2 separate regions of the Homo sapiens genome follow, and region 2 is linked to region 1. Evidence: fine-mapped expression QTL. Tissue or cell type: esophagus mucosa. Region 1 holds a variant in brackets; the other region holds the start of a gene. All regions are shown on one strand. Distances are from middle to middle.

Evidence for each region. PIP is the estimated chance that this variant, and not a neighbour inherited with it, causes the effect.
Region 2: it holds the start of OSBPL3, and the variant in region 1 is fine-mapped to the expression of OSBPL3 in esophagus mucosa (GTEx, PIP above 0.99).

The regions. Positions count from the first base shown.
Region 1 is chr7:24,815,115-24,820,114 of GRCh38, reverse strand. OSBPL3 (oxysterol binding protein like 3) reads left to right here. Exons shown (of 23, transcript NM_015550.4): 18 at 3,427-3,505; 19 at 4,912-5,000. Among named protein-coding and RNA genes, the nearest start is that of GSDME, 60 kb to the right of the region's middle. The variant A/T (reference allele first, on the strand shown) is at 2,034.
Region 2 is chr7:24,977,757-24,983,892 of GRCh38, reverse strand. OSBPL3 (oxysterol binding protein like 3) reads left to right here and starts at 3,715. Exons shown (of 23, transcript NM_015550.4): 1 at 3,715-4,007. RefSeq lists an enhancer at 2,246-2,415 and silencers at 3,556-4,065, 4,116-4,325.

The sequences.
Region 1 (5,000 bases):
TCCAAGAATTGCTGTCAATTCTTACTGAGATCAAAAGTGGTCCTTGGATTTGGGCCTGGTTGGAAGGATCTGCGCCACCTGTTCTTGCCTCTCATCTCTCACTTAGTTTATCTGAGCCACCTCCATTTATTTCTGTAACTTTATCTTATGTAAAAATCATTTGAAATGCCTCACATATTTCAAGAGACATTAAATATTTACAGTTGTTTATCAGAGTGTAGACAGCAGAGGGGTTTTCAGCTTTTGTCAAACTTAAATTTTATTTCTGAAGTCGTGTTTTACATTGCTTACTTCTTTTCATTTTTGAGATGATTGTTCCTAAAATTTTGTTCAGTTTATATTTTGAGTTGGGGTTGGGTGGGTAAATCTTCTAAAGAATAAATAAGGCTATAGATATTTCCTAGATGGATTAATTTTGTTAATCTCTCAATTTATTAAAAAAAAGTGTACTGTAGAAGGAACATATAAGCATCCTAGGTTTTTGGACAGTGAGCACATATACATTTTAAAAATATTTTTCTCTGCTACTAGTGATATCACACGTTACCTTTACACACACAGGCACACACACACACGCAGTCTATTAAACTTTAAAAGTACGAAACAGTATACTGTAACCCCCTTCCCCAGCCACTCAGTTTCTCTCTTTGGAGGCAATCAGTATTTCCAGTTTAAAGTGACAAGTACCATGGTTTTCTTTCTTCACCTTTGCTATTAAAGTTTAAAATTAAAACTGCTCTCTCACCAAAACCCTCTGGAAATATTCTCATAAGGTTCCTAGCCTCCTAATTGGTAAATCTCACTCATGCTATAAGCACCTCTTCTTTGTTTTTTCAAAAGTTGGATTTTTTTTTTTTTTTTTTGAAATGGAGTCTCAGTCTGTTGCTAGGCTGGAGTGCAGTGGTGCGATCTCGGCTCACTGCAACCTCCGTCTCCCGTGTTCAAGTGATTCTCCTGTCTCAGCCTCCCGAGTAGCTGGGACTACAGGCATGCGCCACTATGCCCAGCTAATTTTTGTATTTTTAGTAGAGATGGGGTTTCACCATGTTGGCCAGGATGGTCTTGATCTCTTGACCTTGTGATCCGCCTGCCTCGGCCTCCCAAAATGCTGGGATTACAGGCATGAGCCACTGCGCCCAGCCAAAAGTTGGATTTTTTTTTAATGCGAGGGGTCTTCTCAAAGTAGTTTTGTGTGCTCCTGTGTTACATCCTTCCCTTCTCAGCCTTAGCATCCTTCTCCTAGGCCATACTTCCCCATCAGCCTTTTCCTGAGCAATCTACCTATTTCCATGGGCCTAGGATTCCCAAATCTTGCTTTGTAACCCAGCCTGACATTTCTCTGCCTTTTATGTAGGTTGTGTAAACCATTTCCGTTTGTTGTGATTGTAGATGTAGCTGGGCTTAAATCTGCCCTCATGATGTTTCTTTTCTGTTTGTCACATCTGTTCTTTGTTCTCCGTTTCCTCTTTCTCTGCCTTTTGGATTGAATAATTTCTATCATTCTCTTTCATCTCCCCTGTTAGCTTATTAGCTATACTTACCTGTTTTGTTTCTTGTTAAAGTTGTTACTTTAGGATTTATGTTATATATTTTTAATATCATCAAATAATATTATGCCAGTTTCATATAGTGAGATTTACAGAAGTATACTTCCATTTTCCCTTCCCAACCTCTCTACTATTTTTTCATACGTCTTCTGTATATCATAAACCATGTAGTACATTGTTAATACTTTAGCTTTAAACAGCCATCTATCTTTTTTTTCTCTTGGTAACAATTTTATGAACATATAACTTATATACCATATCATTCACCCGTGTAAAGTGTACAATTCAATGGTTTTTATTCACAGAATTGTGAATTTAATAAACTGTGCAGTTATCAGCACAGTTAATTTTAGAACATTTTCATCACTCCAAAAAGAATCCTCTTTAGCAAATATTATCCACCCCCTCTGCCACCTGCCCCATTTCTCTCAATATTCCCCAGCCTATAAATGTGCCTGTTTGGGGCATTTTATATAAATAGGATTA[A/T]ACAATATGAGGCCCACTGTGCTCGCTGGTCCCAGACCCACCTCTCTCACCTGGACCCCAGCCAGGGCTCCCCACTGTCCCCCCTGCTTCAACCCTGATTTCCCTGTGATCTGTAGATCCTCAGTGCAGCAGCCAGATGGGATCCTCTTGCTGTTCTTTTTCTATTTCCTGGCTTCTCTGTTGGTACCACCATTCATTGCAAGTTAGAGAAATCTGACATTGTTCATAAATTCGTTCTTTTTCAGTCTGTATCTAACTTGTCACCTAGTTGACCTAGTGCCTATTTCTTCTTCTTTAGTATTTCTGGGCTCACTCACTTCCCCGCGTCTGTTGTCTTGGTTCCCTTCATCCCGTTTGTTATCCCCTGGGCAATTGCAGTAGCCTCTTAACTTGTCGCCTTGCTTCTCCTCTCTCCTACTCCTGTTCCATTCTCCATATGGCTTCCAATTGCCTTTGCAAGGTCCATGTCTAATCACATCAGTGGCCTGATTATTTCCACTCAGTGCACACAAACCAGACTCTTAGCCAGGCTTGGAGAGCCCATTGTTTTTCGTTTTCAGTTTTGTTTTGTTTTTTTTGGCAGAATCTCACTCCATCACCCAGGCTGGAGTGCAATGGCATGATCTTGGCTCACTGCAACCTCCACCTCTTGGGTTCCTGCCTCAGCCTCCTGAGCAGCTGGGACTACAGGCACCCACCACAACGCCCAGCTAATTTTTGTATTTTTAATAGAGAAGGGGTTTCGCCATGTTGGCTGTGCTGGTCTCGAACTCCTGATCTCAAATGATCCACCCACCTCTGCCTCCCAAAGTGCTAGGATTACAGGCATGAGCCACTGCACCTGGTTTTGTTCTCAACCTTTCTACTCTTCTCTAGATAAGACAATCTGAGACCTATAGGACAGAACCACACTATTTGACTGTGTTTTCCTATACTTCCGTCCCCTCAGACAAGCTATTTATTTGGCCTTAAATTGCTTTTTCTCTGCCCAGTGAACTCCTGCTTATTCCTCAAAGCCCCATTTAGATGGCCCTTTCTGACAAGCCTCTTCTGATGCTTTCTCCAAGCATATTCGTCACTCCTTCTTCTCAGGTTTCATTTTACCTTATAACACACTCAGTTATAGCCTGGGCCTCTCTGTGTGCTTACTACTTGTTTTCACTTCTCGCATTCATGGAAAGGACTTTATCTTATCATTTTAGTTTCCCTGATTCTGCTCCAAGGGCCCATATGGGGTTGGTACTTATATTTTATGAAAAGTTATCCTATACAATAATTGACTTGATTGTGAAGAGGTTGTACTATATAGCGATTGATCATTTATCTAGCCTAGGAACTATTTCATCTACCTACCTCTCCTGCTAAAAATGTAATATTTGGTATTTCATTTCAGATGTGAGATGGAAAAACAAATTCTGGGGCAAATCCATGGAAATTGTTCCAATTGGCACAACCCATGTGACTCTGCCAGTGTAAGTTCTTCTTCTGTGGTTAAGGAGCTTTATGGAATTTAGGGCCAAGATTTTGCTTTGGGGACAGGATGCCCACCCCCGCCCCCGGCAGTTGCATTGAGTGTGTATTTTTTCTTTTAATCTGTCTGACAGTAGGTTTAAATGTTCCTCCTTTTGGCAAGCTCACTTTTAAAAAATGTTTCTCCCTCAAATGGAAATGCCTCCTGGAGACCAAAGTTCCCTGAATAGATGCTTATTAAAAACTCATTTCCACTTCCTAACAAGATTAAGAATGGTGGTTTTAGCTGGGCGCAGTGGCTCACATCTGTAATCCCAGCACTTTGGGAGGCCAAGGCGGGCAGATTGCTTAAGTCCAGGAGTTTGAGACCAGTATGGGCAACATGACAAGACCCTGTCTCTAGAAAAAATACAAAAATTAGCCAGGCATAGTGGTGGCACGCACCTGTAGTCCCAGCTACTCAGGAGGCTGAGGTGGGAGGATCATTTGAGCCTGGGGAGGTTGAGGCTACAGTGAGCTGTGATCGTGCCACTGCACTCCAGCCTGGGTGAAGGGGTGAGACCCTATCTCAATTTTTTTAAAAAAAGTGTTTTTCCTTTATTATGCTGCTTTGCTATCAAAATCCCTTTTAAGAAAAGTATGGCCTTGATCTGATAGGGATGATTGATACTTATTTATAAAGCAAGATGCTTCTGAGCAGGGACTCTGAAACTGGACTGCCGAGATTCACCTGCTCACTCTGGCACTTACTAACAGCGAATCCCTGGGCAAGTTACTTCACCTTTCTCATCACCAGTTTCCCCATCTAGAAAAAGAGAATAATAAACCACCTACTTCCTAGGGCTATTGTGAAGATTAAACAGATAATATACATGAAACACCTAAAATAGTACTTAGCACATTGCATATGTTTTGTAAGTATCTGGTCTTATTATTAATACCATTTTCCTCGTAATTATTGAATTCCATAAGTAATATCTGAATACTTTCTCATCACAAAGGATGCAGGCAATGTATGTTTAGCAGATTGTATAAAACCTTCATCCCTTTCTCAAGCTTCCCTTTCCTAGTTCAGCAACATTAGACAAGCCCCTCTGGCTCTGAATTGCCTCCTCTGTCAAAGGAGGGAGTGGGCTGTTCCAAGAGACCACCAGCTTCTAGTGAAGCCTCTGGTAGCTTCCAGAGTGCAAAGTCTGAATGCTGTCATTCTCTGTGGCATGCATGCCTCCTTGGAGAGTGGAAGCTCCTAGAACATCCAGTGTGACATAGACACTTAGCCAGTGTTGCTTCTGTGAATAAAGAGATGAATAATGCATTGCATGACTTATTTTATAAAAGAGCAGAGTTTGTTTGCATTTGCTGCTGGCTCTTCTAGAAATTGGTACTTCTACTTTTTCCTTCTTTTTAGTTTTGGGGATCATTTTGAGTGGAACAAAGTGACCTCTTGCATCCATAACATCTTAAGCGGGCAGAGGTGGATTGAGCACTATGGAGAGA
Region 2 (6,136 bases), 160 kb before region 1:
AGTGAAGGAGGAAGAAGATGAGTAGGGCTGTACAGGGTGGAGAGGGTGGCAACTCTGCTTTAGACAAGTGTTTTTCCCACTTTCCATAGGCAGTAGATGTGGCAAAAAGATGGCTCTTTAAGAGGAGACTTAGCCTCTGACCATTCATAGGCTGTATGATTATGGTCAAGACACTAGCAACTTTCTGGGCCTTGCTCCGCCACCCCTTCATAAAAGAAGTTGATGAAGTGATAAACAATAGTTCCTCCTCACTTGTAATCATATCAGAAGACTGACACTATTAGGGATCTTAAAGTTCATCTAGCCCCAGAATGGCAATTCAGCATTATCTTACATGCTGATCTTGGCCTATCAGTGGCAGCTTCTCGCAGTGTTGAGAACGATTCTGAGGCTCTATTTGGACTTAGCGGATAAGGCAGCCTTGACTGCCATAATGATGTCTGCTACAAGGCGGGAGGAAAGTGGCAGCAAATAAGTCAAGATGTGTCATCCCTAATTTAGCCCAATGCCTTCTCTTCACAGGAAAAAAAATGAGACCAGAAGCTTTTGAGTCTTTTGAGTTTACCATGTGCCAGGCACTATGCAAATTGCTTTTACATTCACAATTGTATTTAATCCTTAGACAACTTTAAGAAGTTAGCATTATTATCATTCCTATTTTACAGATGAGGCTTAAGAAAACAAAATTTGCCTGAGGTTCACACCTTAGAAACCCATATCCATAAGCATTTCCCTATATCGCCTCCTGCAGGCACGTACTATGTGTTATGCCAGTGGTTCTCATCAGGGGGGATTTTGCCCTCCAGAGGACTTCTGGCAAAAGTCTGGAGATTTTTTGTTGTTACAACTGGGGAGGACAGGGTGTTCCTTGAATCTAGTAGGTGGAGGCCAGAGATGCTGCTAAATGCACAAGACAGCACCCCCCCAACCTTTACCTCCAGCAGGAAAGAATTATCTCCCTAAAATGTTAATAGAGCTGAGGTTGAGAACTCTGCACTAGACTATGCGGAAATTGTTTGCAAATGGATGATCAAACTCTTCCTGTAGTCCAGCAGCTACATAAATATCTCCATTTTACAGACAAGGAAAGGTGATTGCAGAATCAGGTGGTCATCACAAGACAGGAACTGAGGTAGTCTGATTCTAGAGGCCCTCAGTTTCCTTTACTATCAAAACATGCAAACTCAAGTAGCACCCGCTTACCTATTACCAATTTCAGAAGCTAAGACCACTGTGTCACATGTGAAAAATTCCCACTGTGGTGGGCTTGTCTCCAAAGAGAAAAATTATTTGTTCAACAGTTCAAAGAAGAGGGTCTCTAGGAACTCTTAATATGGAACCACTGGTCTTTATTAGACATTCAAATCGTTATTTTAAAATAAGACGCTGAGGAGAAAGCTGATTTTAGAACATTAACAAACTTTTTCAAGAATAATTAGCTCTGCGTGGGTTTCAACTTTTATTTTTATTTTTTCCTTTTGATTTTAGGAGCTGGAGAGCCTGGAAGTTTATTTAGGAGTAGAAGAGGAAATGAAACTATGAAAAGCCACAGTACGATTCCTCCTTTACTTGGAGACAAGGCACAATGTGAATAATTCTCTCATCCTGTCCAATTAACTGCCTCAAGTACACACACACACACACACACACACACACACACACACACACACACAGAGAGAGAGAGAGAGAGAGAGAATGTACACTCTATTATTATTTGATTAGGAAGACATTAATGAAAAAGCTCGGAACGGGATGCTAAACAACAAAGCCCTATGCAAATCACTTCCTTTCGGATTGAAGGCTTGTCTCCTACAGAAAAACCAATGCTAAAGAAACAGGCGGAGAGGCTGAAGGTGGAGAGCAAAAGAAAAAGAAAGAAAATAGCTTGAACGAGGAAAGGGACTGGCAGGAGGAGGACAGAGCAAGCCTCTCTCAGAGAGAAATTACAGAAAGACGGAAGGAGGTTTGGGAAAACCCAGTCTAAGCTGCTCCGACGGCGGGGCTGGGCGTGGGCAAGGTGCCTCCTTGGACGGTCCGCGCGCCTGCCAGACGCGTCCTTCCACTACCCGTCCAGCCACCTGGCGCTGGTCGGGCTTTGCGAGGTGGTTTAGGAACCGCGGAGTCATTCGATTTGAAATCTTCTCCAATAAGCTTCTCCGTGTGCCGACGTGGGCAGCATGACAGTGGATTTGCTCGGCAGCATCTCTGGCGCCTCCCGCCCTCGCCCGCCGCCTGCCAGATCCGAAACAGACAGTCCCAGACATTTCGCGAGGGGGATGGTTCCAGAAAGCGAAGATCTGAGCGTGGTGAATGAAATGTGAACAGAATAGCTCCGGAAAGAGTCTCAGAAACCTTGAATTGGGGTCAGTTTGGAGACTGAAAATGCGTCGAGCGCTGCAGGTGGTGGTTGGCAGGGGGATTTAACACTGTGGAGCCCTTACTCCGTCCCAGGCGCTGAGCCCAGCGAGCCACGCGCGGTGCCCAGCTCGGTGAGGTCGGTTAGTTGGGTCTTCAGGGAGGCTAAATACCCTGTATTTGCTATTCCCTTCGCCTGGAACGCTCTGTGCGAGACTGGGTGTGGCAGCTCCTTTCCCAGGCTCAGGAATCTGGGTAAAAGCCACCCTCGCCTAGAGGCCCTCAGGGTGAGCGCCCCATCACGCGCTAAACCACTTTCGAAAGTGGACTTGGCCCTCCTCTCAGTACTAACAGTCTGTCAGCCTTTTATTTTTTGCATAGATATGTATTTTCTCTTCTTTATTGTCTGTCTTTCCACAAAAAATGCAAGCCCCGTGAGTACTGGAGCCTGGTGCGCCTTTCTCACAGTTGCAAGCTCGCAACTGCTCCTGGCATATACTAGGTGCTCACTAAATGCTCATGCCCTTCCCACCCGCCACCTGCGGCACTCGACACATTTGCAGTCTGCAAACTGACCCCAAACCATCAGCTGCTTGCATTCGTCCTAGGATCAAAGAAGGCCATTGGGCTAGTGGGAAGTCAAGTCGGGTGGACTTTTCCGTCTTTCAGGGAGATTTAATAGTAACGACGGTGCTCTCCCCACCTCCTACCCCCTTGCACATAAACTGCACAGAACAAAATCACCCCGGCACGAATCTGCACGACTGCCTCTGGAGGTAGGGTCACGGTCTCCGAGCCCCGGGTCTCACACTGATGCTGTCCTTTGTCATCTCGTGCCTAGAGTGCTGCCTCCCTATGTATTTCCTCTGTTCTCGACTCCTCTGCCACAGTCTGACTTTCTCGGGAGGTCGAGTTCTCCTAGCCTGTGCGACCGCAAGGGTCCCCTGGAGCCTTCTCCGTAAACCTGCCCCTCCCGCGCTGCCCTCACTTTTTCCTCCTTCCCTGGCCCGGAAAAGCCACTAGAGGAACATTTACCGAACGCCTACCGCGCGCAGGCACCGAGCTGGGCCACCGGGAGCCCCACCCAGTGCCTCGCCGCAGGACTCGCCTCCCTCCGCCCTCCCAACCCATCCGGAATCCGGGGTCCCTAGTTCCCCCGCCGCGTCATGGAATCCGCTGGCTTCTTCCGAGGACATCGCCCCACCTCCTTCCCGAAAGGCGACTTCTGATTGGTGAGATTGTGCATCACTCTGCCGCCCTCCCGCCCCCTCGGGGCCCCGCCCCTGGGCCTCTCAGGCCCCTCCCCTGCGCTCCCGCCCTTGCGCGGCTCCTCGGGCTAATCGCCGGGCGGCGCGCGCCGAGAAGTTCTGGGCAAAGTACTCAGAACTGGCCGCGTGCTGGTGGCGCCCGCCAGCCGGCCCGGGAGAGGGGACTTGAGCGCTTCGCGGCCGGTGCGCAGCGCGGCTCCGGCCCCGCAGTCTGTCTGCAAGTGGCCATCCCCGCCCCCGACTCCTGCGGCCGGTGCGGGAGCTGTCAGCTGCACGTTGCGGGGGTACCGGAGAAGCCGGGGTTGCCTTCTCCCGGTTCTGTGCGCTAACCCCGGAGCCCGGCCCCGGGGAACTAGGGAGCGTCTCCGGCTGCACAGCGCTCAGGTGAGTGGCGGGGCGCCCGCCTAAATGGGGCCTGGGTGTCGGGGGGCCTGGCGGCGGCGCGGGCTCGGAAGGGCTGCTGTTTGCGGGGCGCCGCGGTTCTCTGCCGGACCGGGGTCTGTCCGAGTCGCCCGGGGAGGCTCCGGCCCTGGGGCAGACCCAAGCCTGGGAGCTTGGGTGCCGGCTGCAGCTCCCGGGGAAGGAGGACCCGGGTCTCACCCACCCCAGGACACCTTCCCTCGAGGGACGGCTCAGAGGATTGACCGCCAGGAGGAGCCGAGCGCAGGGGCCGCGGCGCAGGTGCGGGAGGACGCGGCGCGCGGAGCTGTCCTGGGCAGCGGGGAGGCGCTACGCCGGGGCTAGAGGCTCAGGAAGCCTGGTAAATTGGGGCGAGCGCGAAGCTTTACCACATCCGCGGGATGGGGCGCGCCGGAGAGACTGAGACAACGCTCGCGGGGCAGGCGCTCCGCTCGCCCGCCTTCCCAACCCCGGCTTGCTCAGCTCCCCGGTGCTGGGCTGGAGGCCCAGGGCACATTCCTTTCTTGTCTGAATTTACATATTCATCAGCTTTCTGGCCCCTTCTGGAATTTTTTTTTTTTGTTAGTTTCCAATTACTACTGTTCAGATCACCTTCAGGCTCACCCTAACTCTCGTCTCAGTGTCTCTCACATTGGTCCTTTCCTGGAGGCCCTGCAGCGTCTTAGTTCAGGGTCTTAGGGACTTATGCACTCTGTCTGAACGTTGTCTACAGTTGGGTTTTCCTACCTCTGTCTCTGTTTATTCCGTGGTCAGGTAAATTCTTTAAGTACTGTCATCATAAGCCAGAAACTCCCAGGCAGCCTCTTAGCGCTGCCCAGCTTCCCGGGGAGCGTTTGTGGCCTCTGGAGTCGCTGATGGGCACTGTCGCAGGTCGTCCAGATACTTCTTAAGCAGGGGCGCGCCGCCCTTCCTTCGGCAACGCAACTTGCTTGCTGCCTTCTGCACACTTGTGCTTGTCCTTCTCCGCCTCACAAGCCACCAGTCTCCTCAGTCGGGACTCTTGGAGCTGAGGGGACTGTGAAGTTGTCGGTTTCCATGTGTCTGCGTACTGCGCAGAGGTGCTTGAGACCCCCTAGGTGTTGCTCTGACCCTCAGAGTTTGAGTATTGGGATGAGGGCATTTAGAAATATTTTAAACTACAGCTGCAAAAGAGATACTTCCACAGATGGGTGAAAGCGAAGGCCTGGCTTCTCATCATCTGCACTGTACCCCGCAAGTATCATACAAGGTGAGGTCCTTGGCTAAAGGACTATACTTGGCTAAAGGAGATCAGTCAAGCAGGCCTAGGTTCTTATGCATCCAAGCTAAATGACCATCCCCTCCAGCCAAGCCACATCACCCGTTTGCTGTTGCTCATAGCACTTAAATTTCTCTCTGAAATTGTCTCTTTGGGTTATTGGGTTATCTGCCTTCCCTCATTAGGATGTAAGTACCAGGAATGCAGAGACCTTGTCTGTCTTGTTCATCACTTGATCCCCTGTGTCAAGAACACGCAGTAGGTTTGCAGTAAACATTTATAGAATGAATAAATGAAACCTTCTCTGTAAATATGAGGAATGAGGATTTCATAGCTGATTTTGATTTTCATCTTTATCCTTTTTTTACTGTTGGGAAAATTAACAAATAGCAATACTAGGAACTTTTGTACATTACCGCATTAAACTTACAGAAGTCTGTTAGCTAGGTATTTTTAACCAGATGGGAAATTGAGGGTCCAGCAGGTTAACCTGTGTTGCCAAGGTTATCCTGGCAGAACTAGGATTCCAGCCCATTTTGTCTCTATTGTGCTTGACCTCTTCGAATAAACTAAAATGTGGTTTCCACCATTAGTTAATAGGCATTTAGCTTTATTTGTATCAAAAGCTATGGCTTAGCCAAAAGATTTACTGTTTTATTATTGAGATATATTTTCAGTAATCGTTAATAGTTACATCATAAGCCAGATACTCCCAGGCTGCAGTAAGCTGTAATTTTCTTTTTTCTTTTCTTTTTTTGAGACGTAGTCTCACGCTGTCGCCCAGGCTGGAGTACAGTGGCGCGATCTCGGCTCACTGCAAACTCCGCCTCCCGGGTTCATGCCATTCTCCTGCCTC